Linked DNA regions of Homo sapiens: region 2 is linked to region 1. Evidence: fine-mapped expression QTL. A gene starts in region 1. The other region holds a variant in brackets. All regions are shown on one strand. Distances are from middle to middle.

Region 1 (16,502 bases):
GGAGCTTGCAGTGAGCCTAGATCGCGCCACTGCAGTCCAGCCTGGGCGACGGAGCGAGACTCCATCTCAAAAAATAAAAAATAAATAAAATAAAAAAGAACAGTAGTATAAATAATAATGGTATCACATGCAAACCTGTCGGATCTTTAGAAAGCATTTTGATTTTGGTTATTTTCACAAATTAGAGCATTTAAAATGTAAGTAGATACATTTAATATATGATGTGTTGCTATAAATTATTTTTAAAAATCTTAAATACTTTTGTCTGTGTTTAAAGACTGGTTCCACCACTTAGCAGCAGTATGACCTTGGACAAGTTATTTAATCTCCTTGTCTGTCAATTTCTTCAACTGTAAAATGAAGGTACAATTTACTGTAGTTGGTTTTTGTGAGGATCAAATGAATAAACCAGAACAGTGCCAGGTGCAAGGCATACACTGCATAAGTGTTTGCTGTTTTTATTATGACATGTGATGAGCAACTCGGGGAAGTAATTTACCTCTGGAAAACTCAGCAGATTTAACAAGGGTAAAAATAAAGATTTTTAGTAATACAGGTTTAGGGCAAGCGTGGGGGCTCACGTCCGTAATTCTAATGGTTTGGGAGGCTGAGGCAGGAGGACTGTTTGAGGCCAGGAGTTCACAACCAGCCTGAGCAACATAGCAAGACCCAATCTTTACAAAAACAAAAATCAAAACATTATCCAGGCATGGTGGTGAAGGCCTGTAGTCTTTGCTACTTGGGAGGCTGAGGCAAAAGGATTGCTTGCGCCCCGGAGTTTGAGGCTGCAGTGGGCTATTATCAGGCCACTGCACTCCAGCCTGGGTGACTGAACAGGACCCTGTCTCTAAAAAGTTAAATAAACAAATAAGCGTAATACAGGCTGTCCCTTCCATTAACATTTATTAGTAGATTTTACATTATATATTTCTGGGAGCAAGTTTTCAACTGGATTTTTAAAAAAGTTTTAGGGAGGTATAATTGATACACAAATTACACACTGAAATGTACAGTTTGAAAAGCTCTGACATATATATACCCGCATGAAAGCCTCACTACAATCAAGATGGAGAACATATCCACTACCCACAAGCTGCTTCATGCCACTTTGTAATCTCTACCACCTCCCCACCAGGCAACCACTGATCTGCTTTCTATTACTATATATTTGTCAACTAATATGTTTAATCAGCAATTAATGGTGGTATTTATTAAATATATAACTGATAGTAGAAAAAAGTTAAGAACTATAAAAAGGTAGCTTATGTTGGTAGACAAAAAAAACCTAAAAAAGGTAATTTTTAATGATGGAGGCAATTTAGGGTACTTATGTGAGAAAATTAGAAATAAAAGTTACAAGTAAAAATTTATGAAAAAATTATTTAACTAAGAAGTAAAGTTGATTTGTGATATTACATAGTAATTGACAGTGTTGCTAACATCTTTATATGGCTTTCATATTTTTACATTTCACTCATAAAGTCAGTCTATAGGGATTGGTTGGTTGTTTATTAGTGCCAGGAACTAGGAGGGATCCTTGTGGCAGGATCCATATGTGGCTATTTAAACCTGCTCAAGAGCTACACATGACTAGTAGCTACCATATTGGACAGTGCAAATATAGTAACTTCCATCATTGCTTAAGTGCTACTTTAAGCGCTGATTTAGAAGACTTCTGAGGTATGTGATCTATGATGGAAATGAGGAGAGTCTAAGCTGAAGCTATGGCAATGAGATGAACAGAAGGCATCTCTCTGAGATACTTAGTGTGATGAAAAGCAATGTGGGGGGTGCCTTCTAGGTTTTTCCGTAGGGTAAAGAGGTGGACTGTAGAACCGCTTACCAGCATTGAATGTCAGAAGAGCAGGATTTGGCAAAGGGGATGAAATCAGATTTGGATCCATGAGAGAGGGGCAACTCTGGGACAGGCCAGCGGTATCTCAAAGGCTGAAGGATCTCAGAATGTGATCTGCGGAAAGTCTGTGAAGACAGAGCTCTAAGGAAGGAACAGTAGCCATGGGTAAGGACTACAGCCATGCACTAGGGTAAGGACACTCAGGGAAAGTAGGCAGCATGAGATGGTCAGAAGCTAACATCAGGGCCTGGGGTACAGTAACATTTAGGACAGGGTTTTCAAACTGTGAATAGGTAATGAAATCAACAAGAGATCTCCACCAGCATTTAAAAATAGTATAAAAATATTAATGTGCTTTACATATAATTTGGGTAAAGATCTTTTCCTGTACCTTTTTTTTTTTTTTTTTTTTTTTAGTATTTATTGATCATTCTTGGGTGTTTCTCAGAGAGGGGGATTTGGCAGCGTCATAGGACAATAGTGGAGGGAAGGTCAGCAGATAAACATGTGAACAAAGGTCTCTGGTTTTCCTAGGCAGAGGGCCGCCTTCCGCAGTGTTTGTGTCCCTGGGTACTTGAGATTAGGGAGTGGTGATGACTCTTAAGGAGCCTGCTGCCTTCAAGCATCTGTTTAACAAAGCACATCTTGCACAGCCCTTAATCCATTTAACCCTTAGTGGCCACAGCACATGTTTCAGAGAGCACGGGGTTGGGGGTAAGATTAACAGCATCCCAAGGCAGAAGAATTTTTCCTAGTACAGAACAAAATGGAGTCTCCTATGTCTACTTCTTTCTACACAGAGACAATAACAATCTGATCTTTCTTTTCCCCACATTTCCCCCTTTTCTATTCGACAAAACCGCCATTGTCATCATGGCCCGTTCTCAATGAGCTGTTGGGTACACCTCCCAGATGGGGTGGCGGCCGGGCAGAGGGGCTCCTCACTTCCCAGACGGGGCGGCTGCCGGGCAGAGGGGCCCCCCACCTCCCAGACGGGGTGGCGGCTGGGCAGAGGGGCTCCTCACTTCCCAGACGGGGCGGCGGCCGGGCGGAGGGGCTCCTCACTTCTCAGACAGGGCATTCGGTCAGAGATGCTCCTCACACCCCAGACGGGGCGGTGGGGCAGAGGCGCTCCCCACATCCCAGACGATGGGCGGCCGGGCAGAGACGCTCCTCACTTCCTAGACGGGATGGCGGCCGGGCAGAGGCTGCAATCTTGGCACTTTGGGAGGCCAAGGCAGGCGGCTGGGAGGTGGAGGTTGTAGCCAGCCGAGATCACGCCACTGCACTCCAGCCTGGGCAACATTGAGCACTGAGTAAGCAACACTCCGTCTGCAATCCCGGCACCTCGGGAGGCCGAGGCTGGCGGATCACTCGCGGTCAGGAGCTGGAGACCAGCCGGGCCAACACGGCGAAACCCCGTCTCCACCAAAAAATACGAAAACCAGTCAGGCGTGGCGGCGCGCGCCTGCAATCGCAGGCACTCGGCAGGCTGAGGCAAGAGAATCAGGCAGGGAGGTTGCAGTGAGCCGAGATGGCAGCAGTACAGTCCAGCTTCGGCTCGGCATCAGAGGGAGAGCTCGGCATCAGAGGGAGACCGTGCAGGGGAGAGGGGAGAGGAGAGAGGGGAGAGGGGAGAGGGGAGAGGGGAGAGGGGAGAGGGGAGAGGTCCTGTACCTTTTTAATGAATATATTTACACACATATATGTATACTGGGTTGCAAGGTAAAACATATATCTGAGTTGTCTTCCAATTAGTTTGAATCTCACCAGTTTATAAAATGAGCACCATCGGCTGGGCGTGGTGGCTCACACTTGTAATCCCAGCACTTTAGGAGGCTGAGGCAGGTGGATCACTTGAGGTCAGGAGTTGGAGACCGGCCTCACCAACATGGTGAAACCCTGTCTATACTAAAAATACAAAAAAATTAGCTGGGCGTGGTGGCATGTGCCTGTAGTCTCAGCTGCTCAGGAGGCTAAGGCAGGAGAATCACTTGAACCTGGGAGGCGGAGGTTGCAGTGAACTGAGATCGTGCCATTGCACTCCAGCCTGGCGACAGCGTGAGACTCCATCTCAAATAAATAAGTAAAAATAAGTAAATAAATAAATAAACAAAAATAAAATAAAATGAGCACCATAGACTATCACCTACATGGGAAGTGAGATAGTGTCCTTTTTCTCATCATTGCCTGAAATTCTGGCACGTAATAGGCACTCCGTAAAGACATATTGCATAAAGGAATGAATCAACAAGCCAGAGAAGAGGAAACCCAGTACCAGGGTGACTCAGAAGCTAAATGATAAGAAAAAAGAGAGAAATAACCCAGTGTCAGATGTCAGTGATGTGGCAATATTGAGAGCATGGATGACCTTATCTTTGTAATTCCTATGAATTGGCAGCATCCGGAGCCAGACTGTAGGGGTGAATGGGAAGGGAGGAAGTGGAGAAAAGACAAATGATAGTGGAGACTGAGAGGCTGTTTGTTTTGTATTGAAGATGTGAAAGTTCAGTATGTATTCTGGAGAAATTATATAGAAAAGGCAGGTTCTAAAAACGTGCTGTCCAGGAAAGGAGAAACTAGCTACACAGAGCTATTTAAATTAAAATAAAAAATACAACTTCTTAATCACAGTAGCTCCATTTCAAGTTCTAAATGGCCACATGTGTCTACAGACTACCATACTGTGCAGAGCTGATTAACATTTCCTTCTTTGCAGAAAGGTCTTTCAGACAGTGCTGCTGTAGACAAAAGTTTTAATTCATCATGTTTGTGCTGGCTTCAATAAACAAGTTCAGGTTAAATCAATGCACAGCATCGCCCAATCTCTTCCTACCCAAAACATTATCCAAACCCAGCAGAAAAACTATTGTGGGATTATATCACAATCTATACATGATAGATTCACATGTGGTCTCAGTGGGTGAGAGTTAACCTTGGAAGAGGCCAGTGGAGACTTTAAAGGAGCTGCTAAATCTCAGGATGTGATCTAGGGGTCTGGCCATTATATGTATTCATAATGTTTTCCCACCAAAGATCTGTGACACGTAGCAGCAGTTTGTGATTGCTAAGCATTACACAGAGAAAAGGAGCTATGGGATGGGGTATAAGAATGACAGGTATTGGAGCAGTGCTGAATAAGAAAGGTTAGATAATTCAGGCTAGGGTAGACAGAACATCCTGGGTAAAATGAGGTTATTACAGTGAAATTCTAGTTCTACAAAAGTAAAGTGACTGGTAGACAACAAATAAATCATGTTTATCACCTTATATTTAATTTTTATGGTTTTTGTATGGCACCTTAATAATAAAAAGGACTGTGGTAGAAGACTGAGGCATTATTATCCATCAAAGCTGTCCACTTAGACAATGTTACTCAAGGTCCTGCTGACTTATTGAAATTAGAAAAATCACTTTTGTAATTTTAAAAACAAAACCTCCAATTTAATGGAAAAATCTGTTTTCAATCACCTCTTTTAAAGGAATATATTTTGCTCTGCTCAATTTAAAAAAATCGTTATTCATGGGATGAAGGGATAGAAGAAATGGACTGAGAACTGTAGAACTCTTGGCACATGACTCCATCCAAACCTCTGAGTTACTAAGAGACAAACTTTAGCATGCCTTCTAGCAGTGTCAGATCATGTCCCTAGGAGAACCCCAGCTCCCCCATGAAAATGCCTGCCTGAGAAAGCTCAATGCTACCAGGAGAATTTACTATTTGTTCTAGCCAACACCTGATGATAGGCTCCTGACCTCCCTTTCTCAGGGCGTTTATTAAGGGCTTACCATTATGAATCCTTCCTTCTTCTCTTTAAGGTGTTTATGCGTCTGCTACAACTCAAGAGGTCCTTCTAAAGGACCTGAGAGCCATTCCTTTGAAATTGATCGTCAAGAAGGGCAGAGCCTCTACCTCCCAATCTCAGTGCAAGAATAGCAAGCTAGGCTGGGCGTGGTGGCTCACGCCTCTAATCCTAGCACTTTGGGATGCCCAGGCGGGTGGATCACCTGAGGTCAGGAGTTCGAGACCAGCCTGGCCAACGTGGCGAAACCCCGTCTCTACTAAAAATAGAAAAATTAGCCAGATGTGTTGGCATGCACCTGTAATCCCAGCTACTCGGGAGGCTGAGGCAGGAGAATCTCTTGTACTCGGGGGTGGGGGTGGGGCGGAGGTTGCAGTGAGCCAAGATCGCGCCATTGCACTCCAGCCTGGGCAACAAGAGTTAAACTCCGTCTCAAAATAAATAAATACATAAAAAAGCACTCTAACTTCTATAGCTGCTAGCTAGCAGACACATCTGGCCGAATCGCATCTATGCCAATCAAATCTGTAATTTTTCACTTCTCCAACACTATTGAGCCCTGATCACCTTCCTTCCTTCATTCTCCCTTTGAAATGCCCAGTCACTTCTGTACAAATCGGAACAGAGGTCAGTTCTTTTCCTTTCTGTAAGTAGTTACTGAAAAAAGTCTTTTTCACTGCTTCAATGTCTAGCTGGGTTGTCTTTGACAGGATCCAAAAAGGAGGGGAATTCAGCCCATTTGCCTTTTCCATCTGCAGGGCAAAGTTTTGAGTTGACTCTGAGGAAGTTACGCCTTTTGTAAAAACAAAACATCCAACCCTGAATGAAGCCCTTCCCCTTAGGCCTAGGCCCTCCCCTCACCAAGCGACACCTAGAGGTGACAAGCAGGCGCTCGCTCAGGGACCTAGGTAACGATACACAATGCCATGTAACAAACTCCTGCTCATCGAGGGCATCTGACCCTGGGTGCACGAGTGAATTAACTGAGTTAATGTTGACTAAGTTCCTGGTTAGTATTCACGGAGCAATTGGTGACCCCACCAAAACGTCGTTCAAGGTGCAAGGTCCAGAGGCCTCGAGGAGTGGGATTTACACATCGGAGCCGTCCGCTCAGACGCCGTTAGTGGAGGGTTCCGCCGACTTCACGGGAGTGAGGAAAGTCACTTTTGGAAATCGACTTTGCCTTCGCCCGCGAAGCCCGCCAGCGTCCGGACTCGAGTTGCCCCCGGAGCCACTGCCGGAAGTTTACCAGCTCACTTTCGGCGTCGCGCCCGCCTCCGTGGAGCAGGCCGGAAGTGGCTTTCCGGCAGCCGCCGCCGCAGCTCCGTAAAGCAAGATGGCACTACTCACTCTGAGGCTATTATCTCCGTTTTATATCTAGTATTCCTCTTCTCACCAGTTACTCTCGATTTCCGTCCCGCGCCCTAATTTTCTTCAGCACCACATTCTCATGTTTTTCTTTCATTCAGCCTTGGTGGAGTATGGTCTGGAGGCAACCTACGGCTAGCCTGAGCAACGTGGGGCACCATTTTGTACGGAAACTGAAGGCAGGGCGGGGGAGTGTGAGGCCTCCCGAGGAGGCCCGGCTTGAGAGAGAGCGTGGGAGGGAGAGCGTTGTTCACCGATGATGTATTTCCGCTTCTGGTCTGCCTGGTCGTTTTTGGTTGGATCGGCTTGTTGCGGGGAGGGAGGGGGGGAGATTGTTTGCAGCATAGAAGCTCCGCGGACGGGAAGGTAAACTGAGGTAAGGCTGTGCGGGGGGCTTTTGCGCATGGCTGGGTAGAATGGACGGGAGTAGGGTCCTTGGGATTGCGGAAGAGTGTGGAATTGGAGACGGGAGGCTTAGATGTCTCGGGTTGGACAGAGAAGGTGGGGTGGGGCTCGGGGTTACAAGGTGAATCGCAAAGCCGGGCTGGGGTGGAGTGGGACGAGCGGGAGACCACAGGAGATGGAGGAGAGCCTAGGGGTGCAGAGGAAAGTCTCGAAGGCGCTGGTTGAGGAGGGCCTGGGTCGAGAGGAGCTGGGACGGGGGAAGAGTAGAATCTAAAGTCCTTGAGGGCTAAGGAGAGAAGTTGAGGTAGGGACTGGTCGGAATACATGGGTGGGGGCGTGGTGAGAGTGTAGTTTTTGGGAGGCTGTAGAGTTGGAAGGGGCTGGTGGCTGCGGTTTTGATGCTGACATGACCATATACTTGGCCTTTGTTTCTCTGCAGCTCCCCAGAGACGCTCATCCTACAGCCTCAGCTCGGGCCCAGCCTTCTCTCTCCAGCTGCCACCACAGCCTGGAGGCGCCTGCCTCCACCCTCCCGAATGGTGCTCCTCCTAGCAGGCCTCGGTCCAGGATCCAAGCCCCCTTTGCCCCCTGCCTTGGAGCTGTTGCTCCGGGTTTGTCACAGTGGACTCCCTGTGGCGGGAAGGGAAGAACTTTTGCACAGACAAGGCTTCAGCTCTAGGAACCCCACTGACAACTTGAATCTCAACCTCTAACCTAGTGTGAGGTTCTTCCTGTGCCCACCTTTTCTGCCTTTTGAGAAGAGAAACTCTTCTCCTGGCCATCTAGAGCCCAGGAAGCCCCAAGCTGGGGCCCTGGTCCCAGCATGTCAGTCCTCTCTTGTGCATAGGGCTCTGCCCTCCCCCTGTCAGCATGGCTGAGCTCAGACAGGTTCCAGGAGGGCGGGAGACCCCACAGGGGGAGCTGCGGCCTGAAGTTGTAGAGGATGAAGTCCCTAGGAGCCCAGTCGCAGAAGAGCCTGGAGGAGGTGGAAGCAGCAGCAGTGAGGCCAAATTGTCCCCAAGAGAGGAGGAAGAACTGGATCCTAGAATACAGGTGAGAGCACTGAGAGCAGGGAGAGAAGGAGAGCCCAGATTCCAGCCTCCCTGAAGAGTGTTGGATGAATGAGGGCTTAGACTTACTCTGTCCCCAGTCTGCTGGGGCAGGAAAGGAGAACAAGTTTGTCAACAAATCATTGCAGGGTAATGTAACAAGTTCCAAAAGAGTTGTGTGTCTGAAGTGCTGATGGAGTGCAGAGAAAGGCCTGGCCTTAGTGCTTGGGAGGCATTGCTGAAAGCTTCACTGAAGGAGCAAAGTGTCACTTGGCAGTAGATGGAGGAGGCACACTTTAGGTCAGTGGAGGGTAGGTGTGTTGTACTTCTTTCCAGATAAGCAGAGGGGCTGCCACCTTAGTTAGGGATGCTGTGTGAGAGGAGATGACTTTGATACTGGGGGACAGTTTTGAGGCTGAGTGAGAGAATCTTTTCCCCTTTCTCACCTTCTCAGCGGTACCTTCCAGGGATGTGCGGCCCACATTGCTCTGATAATGTGTTTCACCCTTGTAAACAGTGAGACCTTTCCAGTGTTATAAAGGTAGCATCAACTTTAGATCTATAAAGAAACCCCATATGTTCAAGGATTTGTAACTTTTGTTGTGGCCAATCCTTAGTAACATACATACCTGGCCCTCAGGATAGTGGGTCTCCTAAAGGAATGGAAGAGCAGTTTATTGCCTTGGAGTGTCTACAATCTAGTTGGTAGGACAGGCAGATCTTTGTGTAGGAGACCTGGGGGTAGTCAGTGAGGAAGACCAACTCCATGTGGAAGAGATGCCTGGCCAATCAAAGCTGGGTTGCAGTGTTTCAGGGAATTGGCTGAGAATGACTTCCTGAGGAAGCTTCTTGGGCAGGTGACGACCAGGATGCTCCTGCATGTTTGGGGCTTGAGTCTGCCATTTGTTCCGGTCACATCTCCAAGACTCTGATGTTGTGGAAGTGACTCTTCTGTAGGTGAGCAAGAACATATGAAGGCTCAAATTCCTAGGCTTATCTGTCAGCAAACCTTTATTGGATTACTCCAGTGAGTTGGGAAGAAATCAAAGCCAGTCCTGGCATTCTTCCTTCACTCTCTGTGTGGGTTCCTGGGATATGTGTGTGTGTGTGGGTTCCTCTTCTACTGTGTCCATGCTTATAATGGAGCAGTGGTGAGCCATTTGTTTCTGGCATGAGTCAGTAATTTATTTCTGCTCTGCCTGACATTGCATTGAAAACAGCCAATTTTTCTTGCTATTTCTACAGATTTATCATCCTCTGAGGAAATCAGTTGTAGTGAAAAAAGTCTTGGGCTGAGTTTCACGCTACCTCCAACCCCATGATTTATGATTTTTATGGAAGTTTCTTTACGTTTCTGAGCCTCAGTTTCTTCATCTGTAAAGTGAGCAGTTGGTCTAGCTGATTTGCACAACTCATTCTTGCTCTGCTCTGACACAAGTCTACAGTTCTTTCTCAAACTCTTTTTGCTTGTTCCTTGGTGATAGTTTGTAGATAGCACTTTGGGAAAGAGCTGTCTCTCTGTTGCTTGTGGAGGAGGGCTGTGTAATGTGCATTATATGCCTCCCTACAGCCTTCCTTGCCCTGCTCCAGAGAAGGCTTCTGCAGAGGAGAATCCACTGTGGTCTCTTTACTTGGCCTCTACTACTCCTATGTATTTTTCCAGTGTCTGCATAGGCACATGGTAGTAGTAGGAAGAGTCATGCTTGCATTGTGCTGTCTAATAGGGTGGACTAGCTGCATGTGGCTATTTAAACACAATCAATTAAAATTAACATGTAAAAATGCAGTTCCTCGGCCAGGCATGGTGGCTCACACCTGTAATCCCAGCATGTTGGGAGGCCGAGGCAGGTGGATCACCTGAGGTCAGGAGTTTGAGACCAGCCTGGCCAACATGGTGAAAACCCGTCTCTACTAAAAATAAAAAAAGCTAGCCAGGTGTTGTGGCGGGTGCCTGTAATCCCAGCTACTTGGGGGGTTGAGGCAGGAGAATTGCTTGAACCCAGGAGGCGGAGGTTGCAGTGAGCTGAGATCTGCCACTGCACTCTAGCCTGGGTGACAAGAGCGAAACTCCGTCTCAGAAAAAAAAAAAAAAGCAGTTCCTCAATGTTATACTGACAGTGCATAAATAGAATATTCTGTCATCACTGACTCTTCTATCAGATGAGCTCTATGAGAGTTGGAGTACACTGAGGTAGCGTAAGACTTACTTTGCCTCCAGTGAACTTGTGATGTCGCTGGTGCAGGAAAGGTAAAGCAGACCCTCGTCTCTCTTGCTAAACTGCACAACACGTTGTGGAATGTTGTGGGTTGTATAGGGAGGAAAGGTCTAGTAATAGCTTCCCTCATTTGATGACACAGGTGTGGGTACGCCAGTGCTCTGACCTCAGCAGGGAGTCAGTGTCTTCTTGCTGTGTGAGAGAGGCAGCCTGGCTTGAGGGGCACCCTTCACGGAGGAGGCCGGTGGCATTTTGCCCTTCTGTGCTTGGGCTTTCAAGATGAGGAGGAGATTGGGGTGTTTGTCTTTCGAGGTCCCTTTGAGTGTTGACAGTTCACTAGACCATGCACATTGCTCTGATCATGTGTTTCAGTGCTTTAGGTGGGTGTTCATTTCTCTGGATTCTCAGTGCATTTACTGGGTTTCCATCCACCGTCCATAAAAAGCCACCAGGGAGCTTCAAAAATACCCTTACCTGAGCCTTTCCAGACATGTGGATTCTCTTAGTCTGGGTGGGGTGAGAAGGGATTCTGATGTTACAGTCAGAGCCAAATCCACTGGGCCAGGTATATCCCAAAGGTAGAGCGCCTGTTTCGGTATTTTCTGAGGCTCCCGGAAATGGCTGTCCTTCGGATGAGGCCCTGTCTGACCTGGGGCTGGGGCTCCTTTGCAGGCAGGCAGCTCCATGGCCATTTATGGTGGGATTCCTCTGGAAGTTAGAAGGAAGTCAGCTGGTGCCTACCTGGAGCGTGCTGTCCCTCCAGGGAAGGCTGCTGGCTGTGTCTCCTTGTCATGATCTTAGTGGAGTTCTTTTGAGTCCTCCAGGCTCATCCTCAGCTTTCCGAGAGGGTTCCAGTGGAGGGAAGAGGAAAGGAGCGTGGATCTAGGATGGACCTGGGTCTGTTCTGTGACTTTCTCAGCCCCCTCTTAGTGGTTGCATTCTTTCCTCAGATGTGAGTGCTCTCGTTTACCTGCTCCTTTCCAAACTCTCTAGGGTGACTTTGCAACCTCTGTGACCTCATCTAGAAGTATGGGTTTAGCTTTCACAGGACAGTCATCACCCTGGCCCCAGTTACCATTAGTTTGAGTCTTTTGATGGTCTGCACTAGGTGGGGTGGGAGCATCTGCAGCCTGAGTCCCCATGCCTTTGATTCAGTGTCCTGGCATCCTGGGAATCTGACTGCTGTGCCCTGGGAAGGTCACCCTCCCTGCTGGCTGCTGGCTCACTGATGGATGATGCACGTTGATTCAGACTTTGTCCTCCCCAAATTCCGTTTCAGCTGAGTGCCAGGAGTCCCTGGTGAAGCAGGCCAAATGGAATGTGTTGCTGACTGCCCAAAACTGTCCCAGGTCCTCAGTGGATTCCTGCTCAGCCTTTCCCTGGGTGTCGCCTAGGTGGGCTATCCCCCTCCCTCCTGTGGTGACCTTGCCCTCCAGGCTGCTTTGCTCCCCAGGCATCTTCTTGTCCTGTTAGGGAGAGCTTTGTGACTCTGAGGGGACAGATCCCATCAGCAGATGGCTTTCTGTAAATTGCTGGAGGTGCCACTGGGAAGCTAGTTCCCATATAGAAAGATAATGCCCACTCCTGCCACTTGCCAATAGCAACAGCTCTTCTTGTCCTTTTAACAGTAGTAACAACTTATGCTGAGCCATCCAATCCATTGATGATCTTGTCAGGAGCTGGAAGTTGATGACTGGAAGCATTTGAGGCCATGGAATCCAGTGGGGATCCCGTCTTGGACTTTGATTTGCCACATGAACATTGCAGGGTGGCCTTTACCAACTGACCCCCCACAATCAATGTTTGTTGCATTTCCAATCCCTGTCCTTTTCCTACGTGGGCTGTGGTTTTCCTAGATTACAGCACTTCTTTCTTTACTGAGATGTCCTTCCAGTGGTGTCCTCATTCCCAGGAGGGTGGTCACAGTGGAAGGAAAGTGAGATCAAAGGTCGGTCCTGGATCCAGACCCAAGTCTGTCACTAATTTTCCGCCTGGTTGTTTCTCATCTATCAAATGCAAAGTTGCTGAGAAAGAATATTCCAGCAGGAGGTGCTGAAAGAACTGGTCACTCGTCTCCCAGATAGCCTAAAAGCCCCTGTAGGCCTCGTCAAGCCCCAGGAAGCTGGGCCCCCAGGGAGGTAGGTTGCCTTTCAGCTTGACAGACATTGCCTTTTTAGGGCCTGTTGGGGTGATCGTGTCAGTTGCTGGTGATGTCTCTGTTCGGAAGGCACTGTGAAACTTGGAGTTCCATGTGTCTGGTAGTGTTGATGCTGACCCTATGCCTCCTCTGGGGCCCTGAGCTGTGTTGGCTGCCTGTTCTTCCAGAATGGTTGTTATTTTATGGACACTGGGTTGTGGGACACTGTAGATGCATCTACCCAAATACAACAACTTCTAGACCTTCGCCACCCAACACAGGAGCCACATGCCACTGTCTAGGTTGAGATGTGTCACAAGAGTCAAGTGCATACGGATTGTGAAGACTTAGTTTAAAAAAGTAAAAGTATGGATAATAATATTATTTTATGTTGATCACATGTTGAAATATATTTTGTATATATTGGGTTAAATGTATTTTTATAATTTCACTCTTTTTTTAAATTTTTTTACTTTTAAAAAATGTGGCTTCTAGAATTAAAAATTCCATGTGCAGCTCCTGTTACGTTTCTGTTGAATAAGTCTCTTCGAGAAAATTTAGAGCAAGCTTTTCCAACCCGTGGCCTGTGGGCCGCATGCAGCCCAGGATGGCTTTGAACACGGCCCAATGCAAATTTGTAAACTTTTCTTAAAACATTATGAGATTTTTTTTTGTGATTTTTTTTTTTTTTTTTTTTTTTTGAGACTGAGTCTTGCTCCTTCACCCAGGCTGGAGTGCAGTGGCACAATCTCAGACCACTGCAACTTCCGCCTCCCAGATTCAGGTGATTCTCCTGCCTCAGCCGTCCCAGTAGCTGGGACTACAGGTGTGTGCCACCATACCCAGCTATTTTTTTGTATTTTAGTAGAGATGGGCTTTGCATCATGTTGCCCAGGCTGTTCTCAAACTCCTGAGCTCAGGCAATCTTCCCACCTCGGCCTCCTGAAGTGCTAGGATTACAGGTGTGAGCCACTGCGCCTGCCCACGATTTTTTTTTTTTTTTTTAAGCTCATCAGCTGTAGTTAGTGTTAGTGTATTTTATGTGTGGCCCAGGACAGTTCTTCTTCCAGTGTGTCCCAGGGAAGCAAAAAGATTGGACATCCCTAGTTTAGAGCCAGATTTGTGGCCCTCCTTAGGCAGGGTCTACACTGTTGTAGGTAGGTGTGTGCATTTTCATATCCTCATTCCTCGTTCCATTACAGGTTTCTACCTTTGTGTTCTTCCTGTTACTGTAATTAACATGTCAAACCATTTCCTGTATTCTTACCTGCTGACCCAGATCTTTTCAGGATCAAGGCAGGGGATGGGGGGAGGATAGAAGAGGTAGAAGGGACTAAAAGGAAGATTGTGCATGTCAGCCTGACTCCCTCACTGGGTTGCTGAAAGGCCCGAATGAGGTGAGTGGGGGCCAACATCACGGCCATATGAGTGGGAAGTGATTGTGGTGTCACTGCCAAGTGCAAGTCATGGGTCTGGGCAGCAGGCACATGCTGGGCTGGGTCTCTCTGGCCTGTCCAGCCTCCTGTCCAGAGACAGCAGGGGCTGGTGAAGGCAAATCCTATAGCTAGGCACCAGGTATTTCCTGGCACAAGGCCCTTGGCACAGACCAGCACTGCTCCTCAGTAGTGTCCTTAGCTCACCAGGGGCTCTGGGAACTTTTGTGTTTTCTCGGGCAAGGGAGGATGACTTGAGGCCAGTACCCCTCTCAGCTCTCTTCCATTTCATGGAAAGCCCTGGATGGTTCTATTGCTTCTCTCTCCAGTCCTTCCAGGGGCCAGGAAGGCACTCAAACCAGCTTGTCCAGCAACTTTTCCCCAGGACTCTCCCTCCCTCCCACAGGATCTGCTCTATAGGGACCTGCGGTCATGGTCACCCATTGCCCAAGCAGGCCAAAAGGCTTCTTGGACTCTATACACTTTCCTGATCTTGACCTTAGTCATCCACCAAGCCCCTGTGATTCTGTGTCCTGCGTTGCCTTGGGATCTGCCCTCTCCTCTGCCACCTGGAATACTATAGACAGCCTCCACCTTTTTTTTTTTGTTTGTTTTTTGTTTTTGTGATGGAGTCTCACTGTGTCGCCTAGGCTGGAGTGCAGTGGCACGATCTGGGCTTACTGCAATCCCTGCCCCCCGGGTTCAAGCCATTTTCGTGCCTCGGCCTCCCAAGTAGCTGGGATTATAGATGTGTGCCACCACGCCCAGCTAATTTTTGTGTTTTTGCTAGAGACAGGGCTTCACCATGTTGGCCAGGCCGGTCTTGAACTCCTGGCCTCAAGTGATCTGCCCACCTCTGCCTCCCAAAGTGCTGGGATTACAGGTGTGAGCCACCATGCCTGTCCCAGCCTCCACTTTTGTCTCCCTGGCTCCCCCAGGCTTTCGTTACATTGGCACCAGGCTCTGAGAGACCCTTTTGCCATTGCAGAAAGTCCTGGTACTACCTCCCATAGTGCTGTAGCCTTACTGACCTTCTCACCTGCCAACTTGTCTGCCCAGGGTACCTGCTCCCCTTTGGTTCCTTGGCCCTTTGTTCTTCACTGGCACTTTATTTTTTTGAGACAGAGTCTCGCTATGTTGCCCAGGCTGGAGTGCAGTAGTGTGATCTTGGCTCACTGCAGCCTCTGCCTCCCAGGTTCAAGTGATTCTCCTGCCTCAGCCTCCCAAGTAGCTGGGACTATAGGTGCACGCTGCCACACCCGGCTAATTTTTGTATTTCTAGTAGAGACAGGGTTTCACCATGTTGCCCAGGCTGGTCTCAAACTCCTGACCTCAGGTGATCTGCCTGCCTCGGCCTCCCAAAGTGCTGGGATTACAGGCGTGAGCCACCTTGCCTAGTCATTCACTGGCACTTTTGTGTCTATGAAGTCCTTCCAGCTGCTGAGCAAGTGTTCCAGGCATCCTACCCTGACCTTCTGCTGCCCAATTAGGTGACCTTGCTACCCAGAGAGCACCCACACCCACCCCTCACAAGGCTGCACATACTGCCCAGGACCTGCTGCTGACTTGCTGGGTTTCCTTACAGGCTGCCACCTCTATGTCCTGAATTCTCAGGTCTCACGGTCCTGAGAGGTGATAAGTGTGCAGTAAACATGTGCTGACTGAGTGGCCCTGCCCTGGCCCAGGTGGCCATCCTCTCGCAGAGAGCGAGCCTTCAGGTCCAAGGAGACTCCCTCAGTTTGAGGAAGTGTTGCAATCTCACGGAGAGAGTGAGGGCTCACCACAACTTCACGTTGTGCATATTAGTGTTGCATTCTCCAAACCTCAATTTCTTCATCCTTGAAACTGGGGTTTTACTACCCAATACAAGGTAGAGTTGTGAGGATTACGTGAGATTGTATGTATCAGGTCCCTGATAGACAAGAAAGCTTTTGGCAATCTCCGTATCTTCTTTCCTTTCCTGAGTGTCTCACCTCATTTCCCTGGGCAAGTGGGGCTCTCTCTCTCTGTGTTGCTCCTGCCTTGCATGGTTCATTCAAGGCTACTTCCTTCCACTGCACTAATTTGCCACCCCTCTCTGTGGCAGGAGGAGTTGGAGCACCTGAACCAGGCCAGCGAGGAGATCAACCAGGTGGAACTACAGCTGGATGTGAGTGTCCTTTTCCTTATGTGCTTGGGCTGGTCCTTGGAAGTATCTCCATCTGTCTCTTTCCCAGATTGAGGCAGTGGCGGTGGG
Region 2 (16,502 bases), 22 kb after region 1:
AGTCACCCCTCCCGTTGGTTTCCAGCCCCGCCCCCCTTCCCAAGGCAACTCTGGAGGGTACCCTAGGTATGCTGCTGAGCCCTGCCCCCCGTCCTGCTCCAGCCTGCCCGTGTGTAACCTGTAAGATGTACTGTGTGCCTCCGGAAGACACCACCTTTCCCTTCAGCATTCCCTTTCATGACCTGAGGCACTCTGCGATGTGTGCCCCAAAGCAGAACTTACAGGGCCTGCAGGAAGCTGGTGTCAGGGAGAGAAACCCAACCCCACTGTCAACATAGGGAGCATCACCAACTCCAGACTGGCTCCTGTGGGTATGGTGTTTCCGCTGGGCTGGGTCCTCAACATTGCCAAGGTGCTAGTGGGTCCCTAAGAGGGCCCATGTTGGGGGTGAAGTCATGAGGTCCTGAAGGCTTAGGCCCCTGTCATTCCCACCCTCACTCTTGCTGCACAGTTGTGTTTACTTTTTCTGGGTAGAGGATGCTGAACTGACTCAGCACCCTCCTGCAGGACGGGGTTAGGGAATTTGGTGCTCAATTGCTCTCCCTTGCTCTTCCCCAAACTGAAAATACCTACTGCAGGATCCCTCGGGGCACACTGAAGCTTGGCTGCCAACCCTCTTACTTCCTTTGTTACAGGGAGGGGTTGGCTTGGGGTGAAAAGTTCTGCCCTCCGCAGGGAGCAGCTCCAGCTGCCTGGCAGTGCTCCCAGTTTGTAGGGAAGCCACACCAGATCTGGGTGCCTTGGGAGAACCAGTCCTTCCTTTTGACCCACCCCAGGAAGATGGAGTGCTCTTTTCTAGGCCCATGTTCTGCCAGCAACCGGGATGCGTGGGCAACTGGACTCTGCACGGGGGTCTACAGGTTGAGGGAGGTTGGTCACAATGAGAACCTCGGGGTTTGAGGTGGCCATGGGCAGACAGCCGAAAGGGAGGGAGGGTGTGGGTGTGCGTGTGTGCATGTGCTGGTGTGTAAGGGGGAAAGGGTCTTTCCTGGTTTTATTTAAATAAAGTAGTTTATGTAACAGTTAACATCTACTGTCCTTGCTGGAGGAAGAGAAAAGGGGCAAAGATGAGGCAAGGGTTGGGCAAGGGAAGAGCAGGGTTAGGCGGCAGGCTTTTTAGATGGTGTGGTCAGGGAAGGGAGGTGAAGGACCAGATTGAGTGAGCTGCGCTATGCATGCTCTTGCGGGGGTGGAAGGCCCCATGGCCAGGGTGGTCATGTACAGGGCAAGTGTAGAGAAGCAGGGGAGGAGTTGGTGCCTCATGGGGCCATGCTGTGTGAGGTGATGGGTGCCAGGAGAGGGTTTGGTAGAAAGGGGCCTGCGGGGTGGAGTGGGCTCTGTCTGAGCTAAGAGATGAGAGTGCCAGAGGGTTGGGATCTTAGATGTGTCTGGATGTGAGCATGAATGTAGAGAAGGGACACAAGTAGTGATGCCAGATTTATCAATACAGTGAACCCACTGAAATTTCAGATAGGCAGTATTTTTGTCTGCTGCAGTGTTTAGGATGTACTTACATTATGAATTATCCGTTGTTTCTCTGAAATTAAAACCTAGATAAAAGGTGACTTCCAAGTCAGGGCTTGACTGGCTGGGGGATGGGAGGGGTTTGAGGGCACTTGAACTCACAGGTGGGAGATTGGATAGGGATGTGAACTCCAGGAGCTTTGAAGAAGAGCAAAAGGCTTTGTTTAGCCTGAGCTGCACTTGGAGTGTACCAGTATTTGGAGTTTTGTTGAGAAGAGGTCAGCCAAGGGAAGAAGAAGGTGCTGGCAGGGAGGAAGACCAGAAACCTTGGGGTCAAGGGGCAGGGTGAAGGCCAAGAATTGGAGGCACGCAATCAGAGCAGTGACCCTGGTGGCTGTGGACGCCATCTGAGGGGCCATCTGGGGCCGCTATGTGCTGAGCACTCACTGTGCCTTTGGATGGGTGCTGTCCAGGAGTTTGAGATTGCCTTCCCTGACTTGGCAGATGGGTGTCATAATATTTTATTACTAGAAAAGCTGCTATGAAAATGCATAGCATATGTTTTTGGGTGAGTGGGCTTTTTAAATTTTTTAAATTGTATGTATAGGAGGTGAACAACATGGTATTTTGATGCACATAATGAAATAGGTATCAAATTGGCCTATCATTTTGCAGTTACCTCCCCCCTTTTTTGTTGTGAAACCGCCTAAAATCTACTCTCAGCAAATTTTCAGTCTATAATACAGTATTATAGTCCTAATGAAGGGCTTTCTGAGATGACACACAGTGCTGGACTTCCCTACCCAGTCACTGGCAGGCAGGACCTGTGAGGCTCCTGGTACAGAAGAGCCCTAGAAAAGAAGGGCTATGCCATGCACGTGCGTTTCTCCTTGCAAAATCACCTAGAAGATGCGGCAGGCGGGAAGAGAGACCAGGAAGGTTAGAGCCAATGGTACTTCTAAGGAGAAGAAGACAGAAGCCGAAGAGCTCCCTCCCTCCCACCCTCGTTGTAGTAACTTGTACTCATCCAGTGCATTTCACGTACCAGGAACGCCCCTAATTAATCTCTACAACAATGTTATAGGACAGATAAACACTATGATTTCCTTTCCACGGTAAGAAAATAAGGCACAATGGGGGGTACTCAGCCTTGCTGAAGGTAACGGAGGCGGCTCCCACTAGGCACTTGGACTCTAGAGTCCAAACGCTTGAACCACTGGGCTCACAGGAACAGGAGGTGAGGAAGTGGAGGTAGTCATCTCCGAGGAAGTTTTGCTGGGAAGAAGAGATGAGAAGTGGGAATACTGTTTCTTAGCTCCTTCTCCCAGCAAAGAGGGTCGAGAAATTTTGTTTAAGGTGAGGAAGAGATGGTCAAGGTGTGGGGGACATAGGGCCCCATCCCCCATTCCTGTACTGTGTCATGTTACATGTTACATTGGCCTGTTGGTAATGAATTGTTCTGATCTTCATCTTCCTCAAGTGTGGGGCTGGGGCCTCAGTCTACCCAACACCTGACACAGGCTCTCACCAACAGATGCTCAGGAAATGTGCTTTTGCTTCTTGCCCCTTCTCTTAGCCCACAGCTGTATCAGGTGGGTTTATCAGTACAGCAGTTTGGAGGTCAGGACCTGGTGATGCACAATCCCAGGATCACATCTCTATGGGAATTCTCAAATTTCATGACGCTTCAATTTTATCGCCTATAAAATGGGAGCATAGAGGCATGTGTGGCATGCTGCTACATCAGTGGATCTGAGGTGCAGCGATTCCTGTTAGCACCTCTTCACAGCCTCGGAGTGCTTAACTCACGGAGGCTTCATCCCATCTTGCGCTAGGCAAGTGGACTCTATGAAAGGGTTGTGTTTCCCTCCTCATCTGGATATGATTTTTGACAAGCATGACAACCCCACTGCCTTTTTAAAAATTTAATTTTTAATATTTATTTTATTATGAGACAGGGTTTTGCGCTGTTGCTCAGACTGGAGTGCAGTGGTGCAATCATAACTCACTGCGGCGTGGGACTCCTGGGCTCGAGCAATCTTTCTGTCTCAGCTTCCCTAGTAGCTACGACCACAGATGCACACCACCATACCCCGCTAATTTTTAACTTAATTTTTTTTTTCTCTGTAGAGATGTATTGCAGTGTTGCCCAAAATGGTTTTGAACTCTTGGACTTAAGCAGTCCTCCCTCCTTGACCTAAAGTGCTGGGATTACAGGCTTGAACCACTGCTCTTTGCCTTTTTTTTTGTTTGTTTTTGTGACACTCGTTCTAGCCCAGGCTGGAGTGCAGTGATGTGATCTTGGCTCACTGCAACCTCGACCTTCTCGGCTCAAGAGATCCTCCCACCTCAGCCTACCAAGTAGCTGGGACTACAGGTGTGTCCCACCATGCCCAGCTAATTTTTGGATTATTTTGGAGGCGGGGTTTCCCTGTGTTGCCCAGGGTGGTCTTAAACTCCTGGGCTCAAACGATCCCCCTACCTCGGCCTCCCAAATTGCTGGGATTACAGGCATGAGCCACCATGCCTGGTTATGCTTCCAGCCTTTAGACATCTTTTAAAATTGACATATTGTAATTGTACGTATTTGTGGGGTGTGGAATCAACCCATCTGTAGATGCTCCTACTCTGCCTGGCAGGAAGAGCGGAGATGACCTTCTTGGGCTGTCAAGGTCTTGCTGTGTCAGCAGGGGGCAGCAGCTACCAGAAAGTGCGCAGAGCCTGGGCTCTGCATTTCCCTGCGCGCACTGCGTGTTGACCCTCCAAGCCTGCGTGGTCAGCCTCATGGGCACTTTGCAGAAGGGCCTGAAAAACTGCACATAGAAGGGTGGGGGTGTGTATACATCAGAATGGAACCCTATTTGTACTTGTCATGGGCCTCTTGCATTCCCGTGTGTCCTCGGAATCACCTATTGCGTGTGAGAGCTGGCTCAAGTCTGCAGCGCAGCTGGTCTCAGGAGGTAAGATGTTCGATATGTAGATGTACCCTGTTCTCCTCAGAGCTCACCTCCTTCCTTGGCCTCCCTAGTGTCTTTTCCCTCTCCCTTTCCACAGCCTCTTTATAAATTTCTCCACCCACGCCTGCTCACCATTCCTGAGCCCCAGGCTGCAACACATTGCTCATGCCCTGGGATAAGGGAACCAGGAGACCATACACTGGCTGGCAAATGGATATGTGTAGTTTACTAAGAAATGTTCACCAGGATCTTTCAGTGTACAAACACTGTGGTAGGCCTTGTTAGGAACACTATAAACTGTAATGCCATGGGTGGGTCTTCCAGGTAAGGAATGCAGGTGTGCACAGGTGGTGCAGGGCAGTGAAAAATACATAACCAGGCCAGGAGCAATGGCTCACAGCTGTAATCCCAATGCTTTGGAAGGCCAAGGTGGGAGGCTCACTTGAGGACCAAGTTTGAGGCCAGCCTCAGCATCATAGTGAGAACCCGACTCTACAAAAAGTAAAAAAATTAGCAATGCGTGATGGCATGCACCTGTAGTCCTAGCTACTCCTGAGGCTAGTGGGAGGATCTCCTGAGCCCAGGAGTTTGAGGCTGCAGTGAGCTATGATCACACCACTATTTCAGAATGGGTGACAGAGGGACAACCTATTTCTAAAAATAAGTAAATAAATAACTAATGAGGGCTGCAGTCAAGGAAAAATCTGGGAGGTTACAGCTGGGCATTGCTCTCCGAAGCTCTGAACCAGCCCCTTGGTCTCAGACTGGAGAAGTGGTGCCTGGCTCCCAATCCTCACTCTTCCCAAATCTGTCTTGAGCTCCCAGGGCCTGTGTCTCACCCATCTTGGTGTTCTCAGGACCTGGAATGTGGAAATTTTCACCAAACAGCTGTCTACTGACTTACTTCTGCTTGTGCTACCCTTGGCACAAGTTTCCTCCCTTCTCAAACTGTCAAACTGCTGCCTGTGGTTTGAGGACCAGATCATGTGGTCAAAAGTCCACATGAGCTGGGATTCAACCACAGGCACCTCTCTAGCCCAGTCTGAATTAATCCTTATCACTCTCAAGTTCCCCATGGCTCTTTTGACTTACTGAAGAATGGGCCGGTTGTTGTAGACATGTCTCTTGTTGGTCCTAAGTCCTCAGAAGAAGGGGTCAGTATCATCCTTGACTCCATCTCACTCAACACATAACACAATAGACATATGTACAGGGACCATACGTGATGCATAGTCTAAATTGGGACAGCTGAGTGTGAAAGGGGGCAGGTGTGGCCTGGGACTGACTTGGGTGATCTAGGACATATGGTCACCCTCATTCTAGGTGCTCAGTAAACATTAGTTCTTTTGAGAGCTTCGGTGTTAAAAACACTGACCACACTATTCAGAGAGGGTTGCCCTTGGCCTGCCCCTGCCACAAGGGGTTATGTGCACAGGGACAATTCACTCAGCTCCTCTGGGCCTCAGTGTTCCAATCTGCCGGAAGTGTGGACAGACTCAGTAGATAACCTCTAAGGTTATCTAAAGCACTAAAATTATACAGCTGGCAGTGGAGGCTGGGCCATGCGAAGAGTTCTGATGGATGATGTGAAATGGTGCATGTGTTTGCAGACAGGGTTAGGGGTTGGAGCATGAGAAACCTGAGCAAGTCCAGAGTTGGTTAGGACCCAGCCCGGAGGGAGCAGAGGGCTGCTGGATATTTCTGCTTGGGTGTGAGATGATCATCGTCCAGAGGTCGAAGAGCTCAGAGTGCTGGGCAGTAGTTTCTCTTTCTCCAGGCAGGCAGGTGGCTTTCACTGCACAGTGCAGATACGCTTCTTGATTTATTCAAACATAGGAGGAAGGGAGTGTCAAAATGAGTTTCTTCCCCATTTAGAAAAGAGGAACCTTCTTGGTCTAGGGTAGAGTGGAGCAGCAGAGCTGCCTTCTTCCTCAGCTGCGGCTTCATCTTCCATGCTCCTTCCAGGCCACCCCATCCTGTTTCGTCTCTATGATTTCTGCAATAACATGCAGAAGAGCTGGATCATCTTCACACTGACACAAGGAAATCTCAGTTGTGCCACGGCCTGCTTTTTTCCAGCAGGAATTCTTAAGGGCCTGGGGGCCTGGGGCAGCAGTGAAGGCTGGAGGAGGCTCATGGAGCTGTACAGGTTCGCAGGGGCTGCTGTGGTTTAGGGAAGAAGGAGAGGATGTTGCTTAATGTCACCTGCCTTGTGTGCTAACCTCAGTGTTGCTATGGTTTCAGCCTCCCACTCCACTTGGAGAGAGAGGCCAGGAGCCCACCTGCCTCTGCAGCCCACCTGCCTCTGCAGCCCAGGGTGGGAATGTAACCGTTGCTGCTGTACTCACATCTGACCTTCCTTCAGCTGATCTTCGCCCCTTTTACCAGATCTCCTCTTTCACTTTACAATTTCAGAAGCCTCAGATTACAATCCTCTCCATTCCCTCAAACAGTTGCATCTGGCAATAGTGACCATGGCTGCCCCATTGGAAGGGACTGTTAACAGAAAAGGGCATGAGGCCTTAGGAGGAGGGGAGCTACGTCTTCATAACACTAACAAAAACAAACCCGAGGTTAAATAAAGTGAACCAGGTATTTAGTTCACCTGCCACCTGGGATATACTTTTTAATTTTTTCTGGGTTGGTTAAAAATATATTTAGGGCCGGGCACGGTGGCTCACGCCTGTAATCCCAGCACTTTGGGAGGCTGAGGCGGGCGGATTACCTGAGCTCAGGAGTTGGCAACCAGCCTGGGCAACATGGCGAAACCCCTTCTCCACTAAAATACAAGAAATTAGCCGGGCTTGGTGGCGTCCACCTGTAGCCCCAGCTACTCAGGAGGCTGAGGGAGGAGAATGGCGTGAACCTGGGAGGCGGAGCTTGCAGTGAGCTGAGATCGCGCCACTGCACTCCAGCCTGGGTGACAGAGTGAGACTCCGTCTCAAAAAAAAAAATGTATATACATACATATGTATATATATTTAACGACACTTTCAGAGAGAATGTGACAGAGATAAAAGCTGAATAAGAATGACAGGAAAACTGATCTGGAAGCATAAATGATGAGGATGAGAGAAAACATCTGCAGCTAGACAAACCCAAAAGACTTGGAGAAAGTGACAAAAGTGAAGCAGCAGAGA[C/T]GAGGAGAGACGTGAAAATACACGCTGGAGGGAGGGACATCAGAGACGAGAAGAGGAAAGCCTCATAGGTGACTGGGACATCAGAGATGAGAAGAGGAAAACCTCGTAGGTGACTGGGACATCAGAGATAAGAAGAGGAAGGCCTTGTAGGTGACCGGGACATCAGAGACAAGAAGAGGAAGGCCTCGTAGGTGACCAGGACATCAGAGACAAGAAGAGGAAAGCCTCGTAGGTGACCGGGACATCAGAGACGAGAAGAGGAAGGCCTCGTAGGTGACCAGGACATCAGAGACGAGAAGAGGAAAGCCTCGTAGGTGACCAGGACATCAGAGATGAGAAGAGGAAAGCCTCGTAGGTGACCGGGACATCAGAGACGAGAAGAGGAAGGCCTCGTAGGTGACTGGGACATCAGAGATGAGAAGAGGAAAGCCTCGTAGGTGACCGGGACATCAGAGACAAGAAGAGGAAAGCCTCGTAGGTGACCGGGACATCAGAGATAAGAAGAGGAAGGCCTCGTAGGTGACCGGGACATCAGAGATGAGAAGAGGAAAGCCTCGTAGGTGACTGGGACATCAGAGACAAGAAGAGGAAAGCATCGTAGGTGACCGGGACATCAGAGATAAGAAGAGGAAAGCCTCGTAGGTGACCGGGACATCAGAGATGAGAAGAGGAAAGCCTCGTAGGTGACCGGGACATCAGAGATGAGAAGAGGAAAGCCTCGTAGGTGACCGGGACATCAGAGATGAGAAGAGGAGAGCCTCGTAGGTGACCGGGACATCAGAGACAAGAAGAGGAAGGCCTCGTAGGTGACCGGGACATCAGAGATGAGAAGAGGAGAGCCTCGTAGGTGACCGGGACATCAGAGACAAGAAGAGGAAGGCCTCGTAGGTGACCGGGACATCAGAGATGAGAAGAGGAGAGCCTCGTAGGTGACCGGGACATCAGAGACAAGAAGAGGAAAGCATCGTAGGTGACCGGGACATCAGAGATGAGAAGAGGAAAGCCTCGTAGGTGACCGGGACATCAGAGATGAGAAGAGGAAAGCCTCGTAGGTGACCGGGACATCAGAGACAAGAAGAGGAATGCCTCGTAGGTGACCGGGCTGGTAGCACAAATGATACTCATACGTGCCAGGACTCTAGCTGAGCCCGAGTTAGATTTACAGCCCTCCTTATCTTGACCTATCTCCAAGTTCCTAGGTGAAGTGGCTGTTCCCAGTGCTGCCTGAATCCTTCAGCTGACTGCCGGCCAGAGGTTTATGGCTCTGATCAGGAAGATCACTGATGAGTCTTGTTTCAGACAGGTCCCACCCTCTGTTGGCTCCAACAGTGTTTGATATCCAACAATAGGAAACCAGATTCTGTGAGTGAACTCAAGCTATAGGCAGGACCCGTGGAAGGCACAGGGGAAAGGAGTTGTCTTCCCAGGAAATCTTGGATTTCCCCCTGGAAGTAGGTATCCTATGTACCAGGTGGGAGAGGACTGAGGAGAATGTGCCTTAGGACATGGCTGAGAGCCTCTCTACAGCTCTGCACCATTAATTCCGTGTGGATTTGTGTACCTGGAGCCCAGGGAAAACTAAAGCCCCTCTAATCAAAATGGTGTTTCTTTCTCGAGGTCCTGCTGGTTGTGAGAGATTTATGCTTCTGTGTGGGATATGTTCTTTCACCTATAAACATCAAAATCCCACAGTGAAATGGGAACAGAAAAATGTTTATTCCCCACCCAACCTTCATCTTAAACATGGTTCAATAGGAAGGTATCACTCAGAGACCCTGGCCCAGGGAGGATCCTTCTATGACTCTAGTTCCTAAAATGTGTTCTCTAGATCAACAATATAAACATCACCAGAAACTTGTTAGACATGCAAATTCTCAGCCCCCTACCTCCACTCCTCTGCCCACAGCAATACTGCATTAGAAATGCTGGGAGTGGACCCCAGCAGCTTTCAACAAACCCCTAGAGTGATTCTAGTGTACCCTGGAGTTTGAGAACCTCATCTTTCCGGCAGGTGGAAGGGATGTGGCAAACAGTGCACAGGGGTCCCAAGACTTGTCCCTTCACTCACCTTTCACTGGCCAAAGCAAGTCACCTGGCCTTGCTCCCCCATTGCCTTCTGCCATGATTGGATGCTTCCTGAGGCCTCCGCAGAAGCAGAAACCACTATGCTTCCTGTATAGCCTGCAGAACTACGAGCCAATTAAAACTCTTTTCTTTATAAATGACCCAGTCTCAGGTATTTCTTTATAGCAATGTGAGAACAGACTCTTGAAATATTTGCACACCCATATTGAAGCAGTATTATTCACAATAGTTAAGAGGTAAAAGCAACCCAAATGTCAATTGACAGATAAATGGACAAACAAAATACGTTATATACAATTGAATATTATTTAACGTTAAAAAGGAAGGAAATTCTGACATATGCTACAACATAGACTATCCTTGAGGACATTTTGCTAAGTGAAACAAGCCAGTCGCAAAAGAACAAATACTGTATGATTACACTTACATAAGGTATCTAGAATAGTCAAACTTACAAAAGCAGAAAGTAGAACAGTGGTAACTAGAGAATCTGGGGAGAGGAAAATGGGGTGTTGTTTAATGGGTAAAAATTTCCAGTTCTACAAGATAAAAACTTCTTTTGTAGATTGGTTGCATAGCAATGTAAATATTGTTAGCAAAACTGAATGGTAACTGGGTGCGGTGGTTCACGCCTGTAATCCCAGCACTTTGGGAGGCTGAGGCGGGCGGATCACGAGGTCAGGAGTTCGAGACCAGCCTGACCAACATGGTGAAACCCCGTCTCTACTAAAGATATAAAAATTAGCCAGGCATGGTGGCGCATGCCTGTAATCCCAGCTACTCAGGAGGCTGAGACAGGAGAATCGCTTGAACTTGGGAGGTGGAGGTTGCAGTGAGCCGAGATCATGCCACTTCACTACAGCTTGGATAACAGAGCAAGACCCTGTCTCAAAAACAAAAACAAACCAACCCAAAAAACAAAAAAAACCCAGAATGGTAAGCTTAAAAATGCTTAAGATGGTAAATTTTGTGTTATCCACTTTTTTTTTACCATAATAAAAATAGTATCTTGACAAAATTAATAGAAATCATACAAAGTATGTTTTCTGACCGTAGTGGGATTAAACCAGAAATCAATAACTGAAAGCTGGAAAATTACAGTATATTCGGAAATGAAACAAAAACTGTTCTAAATAAGGAATCAAGAAGTGTAAAGAAAAGTTTTTATATATTTAGGACAAATGAAAATGAAAATGCCACTTGTCAAAATGTGTGGGGTGCAGCAAGAGTGCATAGTGGGAAAGTTTTAGTAACATGTCTACATTAGAAAAGAAAATGAGCTAAAATCAATAACCCAGCGTTCCACCTTAGCACACTAGAGAAAGACAAACAAATTAAGCCTGAAGGAAGCAGAAGAAAAGGGATAATAAAAATTAGAGCAGAAATGAATGAATTTGAAGACAAGAAACAATAGAGAAAAATTAATAAAATCGAAAGCTGATTCTTTGAAAAGACTGGTAAAATTAATGATTCAGGCTAACCAAGAAAAACAGAGAGGAGACAAATTATCAATTTTATAAATGAAAGAATGTTAATCATCCCTTGGACATTAGAATGATAATAAAAAGATAATATGAATAAATCCATGCTCACAAATTGGATGATTTTGATGAAAGGACTGATTCCTTGAAAAATACAAATTGCCGAAATTCACAGAGAAGAAATAGATCAGCTGAACAGTTCTATATATTAAATAAATTAAATCATTAATTATTAACCTTCCAAAAAAGAAAACATCAGGTCCAGGTGGTTTCACTGGTAAATTATATCAAACATTGAAGGAATAACTGATACTAGTTTTCCACAATTTCTTCCATAACATAGAAGCAGTGGAACACTTCCTAGCACATTCTATGAGGCCCGCATTATCCTAGTCAAAATCAGATAAAGACACCAAAGAAAGGAAAACAATGGACCAGTATTTTTCATGAGCATAAATGTAAAAATTATCAACAAAATATTAGCAAATCAAAGCAAACAGTGTGTAAAAACATTTTATACCATGACCAAGTGGAATTTATTTCAGGTATGTAAGACTGATTTAACTTTCTTTCTTTCTTTTCTTGAGACAGAGTCTCGCTCTTGTTGCCCAGGCTGGAGTGCAATGGCACGATCTCGTCTCACCGCAACCTCTGCCTCCCAGGTTCAAGCAATTCTCCTGCCTCAGCCTCCCGAGTAGCTGGGATTACAGGCATGCACCACCAAGCCCGGCTAATTCTGTATTTTTAGTAGAGATGGGGTTTCTCCATGTTGAGGCTGGTCTTGAACTCCTGACCTCAGGTGATCTGCCCGCCTCAGCCTCCCAAAGTGCTGGGATTACAGGCGTGAGCCACCGCGCCCGGCTGACTGATTCAGGTTTCTAAACTGAGCAATATAATTTAGCACATCAGCAGACTAAAGAAGAAAAGCCATATGATTATATTGATTCAGAAAAAAAGTTTGACAAAATCAAACACCCATTTATGATAAAAATTCTCAGCAAATTATGAATTAGTAAAACTTCTTTAACATAGAATTGCTACAGAAAACATACAGCTAACTAACATCACACAGAATGATGAAAATGGCATGCTCTTCTGAGCTTGGAAACAAAGCAGGGTTGTCCTCTATTACCACTCCTATTCAACACTGTATTGGAAATCTTAGGTAGTGCAATAACACAAGAACGAGAAAAAAGTTACAGGTTAGAAAGGAAAAAATTAAACTCTATTTGCAGAAGATACAATTTTCTATGTAGAACATCTCAAAGAATTGACAAACAAAACAAACCAATTTATGGAAGTAAGTTAGCATTGCAAGGTCATGGGATACAAGACTAACATAAGAAGTCAATGACTAACTTGAGGAAGTTATGCTAAGTGAAATGTGCCAGTCACAAAAGACAAATATTGTATGATTCAACTTACATGAGATACCTAGAAGACAAATTCATAGAGGCAGAAAGTAGAATGATAGTTACCAGGGGAAAAAGGTGAAATGGGAAAGTCTTGTTTAGTGGGTATAAAATTTCAATTTCGCAAAATAAAAACGTTCTGTGGTTTGGTTGCGTGCTAAATGAGAATATACTTAACACCACTTACTGAACACTTAAGAATAGCTAAGATGGTAAATTTGGTGTAATGTGTATTTTACCATAATTAAAAATAATTTTTAAAATGGAATACAGATTTTCCCTGGCTTTTTTCAATGCAGTCCCAATCAAAATCCCAGAAGGTTATTGTAGATAGCAACAAACTAATTCTAAACTTTATATGAGAAGGCAGAAGATCTAGAGTAGCCAACACAATATTAAAGAAGAAGAACAAATTTGGAGGAACGACACTACCCAATTTCAAATCTTATTATACAGCTATAGTAATCAAGACAGCATATTATCAATTGAAGATAGTCACACAGATCAGTGAAACAGAATATAGAGAAGAGAAATAGATCCACATAAATATAGTCAACTGAACTTTGATGACAGGGCAAAGACAATTTAATGGAGAGAAGATAGCCGCCTTCAGTAAAAAGTGCTGGATAAATTGAACAACTGTATGCAAAAAAATGAACCTAGACAGAGACATTACACTTTATACAAAAGTTAGCTGAAAATAGACATACACATAAAATGCCAAACTATAAAGCTACTTGAAAAAAAATAGGAGAAAATCTGCATGACTTTGGGTTTGATGATGTGTTTTTCAATGGCACTATCCATGGAATAAAAAATTAACAAGTTGGACTTGCTAAAATTGAAAACCTCTGATCTGCTAAAGACATGGTTCAAAGGAAGGAAAGATAAACCACAAATTGTGAGAAAAATTTGAACAATAGACATCTGATAATATCAAAATATACAAAGAACTTGTATTTAAAATGTACAGAGAGTTCTTACAGCTCAACAAGAAAACAACCCAGTTCAAAAGTGGGCAAAAGATTTGAACAGACACCTTAAAAAAAGATATACAGATGGAAAATAAAAATATGAAACGGTGCTCAACATGATATGTCAGTAGGGGATTGGAAATTAAAACGGCAGTGAGATGCCGCTACACACTTATTAGAATATTCAAAATGCAAATAACTGATAATACTGACTGCTGGAAAGTTTGCAGAGCGAAATAAACTCACATTCACAGGTAGTGGGAATGTAAAATGGTACAACCACTTTGGGAGATAATTTGACACTTTCTTGCAAAACTAAACATAATCTTACCATGTAATCCAGCAATCACGTTCCTAAATTCTTACCCAACTGATTTGAAAATGTATGTCCACTCAAAAACCTGCATGCAAATATTTGTAACAGATTGATTCATAATCACCCACAACTGGGAGCAAGGAAGATGTCTTTTAATAGGTGAACGGATAACCAAACTGTGTTGCATCCATACAATGGAATAGCTTCTTATCAATAAAAAGAAATGAGATATCAAATTATGAAAATAAAAGAATCTTAAATGCATATTATGAAGTGAAAGAAGCCAGCCAGAAAAAAAACTGTATAATATATGCTTCCAATTATATGACATTCTGGGAAAGATAAAACTTAAAAGACCTTAAACACATTAGTAGATGCCAGAGGTTCTGGGGAAGGAAGTGAAGGTTAAATAGGTGAGGCACAGGAAAATTTATAGGGCAGTGAAACTTCTGTGTGATAATATAATGGTGAATACAAAACGTTAAGTATTTGTCAAATTCTATAGAGTTTTAGAGCACAAAGAATTACCTTAATGTATGTGAAATTTAAAAAATCATTTATGAGGTGGGGAGAATCACAAGAAGAAATGAACACTGTGACAAAGTAATCTAAACGTTTAATGAGGCAACCTCACTCAAGGGGCTGGAGGAGTAAGATGCTGACCTACCTAAGCTATTTTTTGTTTTGTTTTTTTGAGACAGGGTCTCATTCTGTTGCTCAGGTTGGAGTGCAGTGGTGCAATCTCAGCTTACTGCAGCCTCAACGTCCTGGGCTCAACAATTTTTTTATCTTTTTTTTTGATATGAAATCTTGCTTTGTCACCAGGCTGGAGTGCAGTGGCGCAATCTTGGCTCACTGCAACCTCCACCTCCCGGGTTCGAGCAATTCTCCTGCCTCAGCCTCCCAAGTATCTGGGATTATAGGCACACACCACCACGCCCAGCTACTTTTTGTATTTTTAGTAGAGACGGGGTTTCACCATGTTGGCCAGGTTGGTCTCGATCTCTTGACCTCGTGATTCGCCTGCCTTGGCTTCCCAAAGTGCTGAGATTACAGGCGTGAGCCAGCGTGCCCGGCCAGGCTCAACAAATTCTCCCACTTCAGCCTTTTGAGTGGCTGGGATTACAGGCATGTGCCACCATGTCTGGTTAATTTTTCTTGTATTTTTTTGTAGAGATGGGTTTTCACCAAGTGGCTGAAGCTGGTCTCAAATTCCTGGGCTCAAGCAATCCTCCCGCCTTGGCCTCTCAAAGTGCTGGGATTACAGGTGTGAGTCACTGCACCTGACCCCTAAGCAAATTTGGAAATTAGTAGAATCTGTAAGACAAAAGGCAAAAGAAACTGTTCATAAGCACTGAACTCCAGTAAATAAAGTTGTTTCCCATGGAGGTAACAATTCTGATACTGCTATACATGTATGCTAGAATTCAACAATTAAGTAAATGGATGGCAGATAGTGAAAGCCAGGTTACAGATAAACAAGGGGAGGGGGCTAGAAGGACTCACATGTTAATGGATTAAAATTGGAGACAGTGGTATGAATTAATGTTTAGCTTAATATGGATAGAGAGTTACATATACAAATATTTATAAATATGTGTATACATAAGTGTTAATGCACACTCATATATCTCCTTGATCAGTAAGCTGAGAGGGTTTAGACGCAATGACACCCTGGTATCAGTAAAGCAGAGTCACTCATCAGTGAAACTCCAGACTTTGACATGCAGCTTCTGATACATTGGCTACTCCTGGGGTATAGGATGTAGAACTTAACATATGCCCCCACAGAAGACCCCTTGTCACATTCTGTTTTCTCCTCCACCTTCCCCAGCAAGCTCTCTGCCCTTAAAGCCAGTCACATGTAGTGACCTTCTATGCCCATTGCTTTACAAGGGAAACTCCTGCTTAGATACCTGGTCATTAGCTTACAGAGAAATTCTGGGAAAAGGCAGTGAGAAAGGCCCTCTCACCAACTCACACAGTGCCACCCTAATAGGAGAAGGGGACCACTCAATGAGAGTTTCTTTACTCATTTTCCCTGAAGCAACCATTGTAGCAGCTGTCACAGAACAAAGAAGTCTCAGGTTTGCTGATGCAGAAAACTTCTAATAGTATTTAAGTAACGTTTTCTAACATCTACCAATTAAAGTTAGAGGAAATCTTAGGGTGAAGTTTTTGCAGGCTACCCATCATAAACATTCTGCAAAGAGCTCCAAACTATTGATTTTTAAAAAAATTTGTAATAATATTCCAAAGTCCAAAATGTGTAGGGTAGACCAGCAGTTTGGAAACCCAAGTAAGAGACAGTTTGTTGAGAGAGTTTCCTGTATATGTAATGTTTTTCAATAAATTTAGGAAGTTTTTAGTCATTATTTCTTTGAATATTTTTTGCTGCTTCTTTCTCTTCCTTCTCTCTCTCTTTTTTTCTTTTGGGACTTCCCCCCTGTTGCTCTGTTCATTTTTATATCCTTTATTCTGCCAGTTATTAAGATTGTAAAATCTCTATCAGTCAATCTTCAAGTTTGTTCTTTCTTCTGCAAATTCAAGTCCAATGTTGAACTCTGCTAAATTTTTTATTTCAGCTATTGTACTTTTCAACTCCAGAATTTACATTTAAAAAATAATTTCTATCTATTGATATTCTCTATCTGATGTGATATTATCATCATA

The links. PIP is the estimated chance that this variant, and not a neighbour inherited with it, causes the effect.
Region 2: its variant is fine-mapped to the expression of SH3BP5L in whole blood (TOPMed, PIP above 0.99).

Annotation. Positions count from the first base shown.
Region 1 is chr1:248,816,735-248,833,236 of GRCh38, reverse strand. It overlaps SH3BP5L (SH3 binding domain protein 5 like), which reads left to right and starts at 7,322. Exons shown (of 7, transcript NM_030645.3): 1 at 7,322-7,402; 2 at 7,871-8,484; 3 at 16,353-16,415. The coding sequence starts at 8,302. It overlaps MIR3124 (microRNA 3124), which reads right to left and starts at 6,860; the gene lies at 6,794-6,860. RefSeq lists enhancers at 6,631-6,730, 6,801-6,850, 6,426-6,976, 6,961-7,220, 6,977-7,528 and 2 more and a silencer at 14,053-14,347.
Region 2 is chr1:248,794,971-248,811,472 of GRCh38, reverse strand. It overlaps LOC124904577 (a long non-coding RNA gene), which reads left to right and starts at 3,955. Exons shown (of 2, transcript XR_007067008.1): 1 at 3,955-4,424; 2 at 11,719-12,685. SH3BP5L (SH3 binding domain protein 5 like) reads left to right here. Exons shown (of 7, transcript NM_030645.3): 7 at 1-1,027. RefSeq lists enhancers at 6,011-6,220, 7,629-8,828. The variant C/T (reference allele first, on the strand shown) is at 7,562.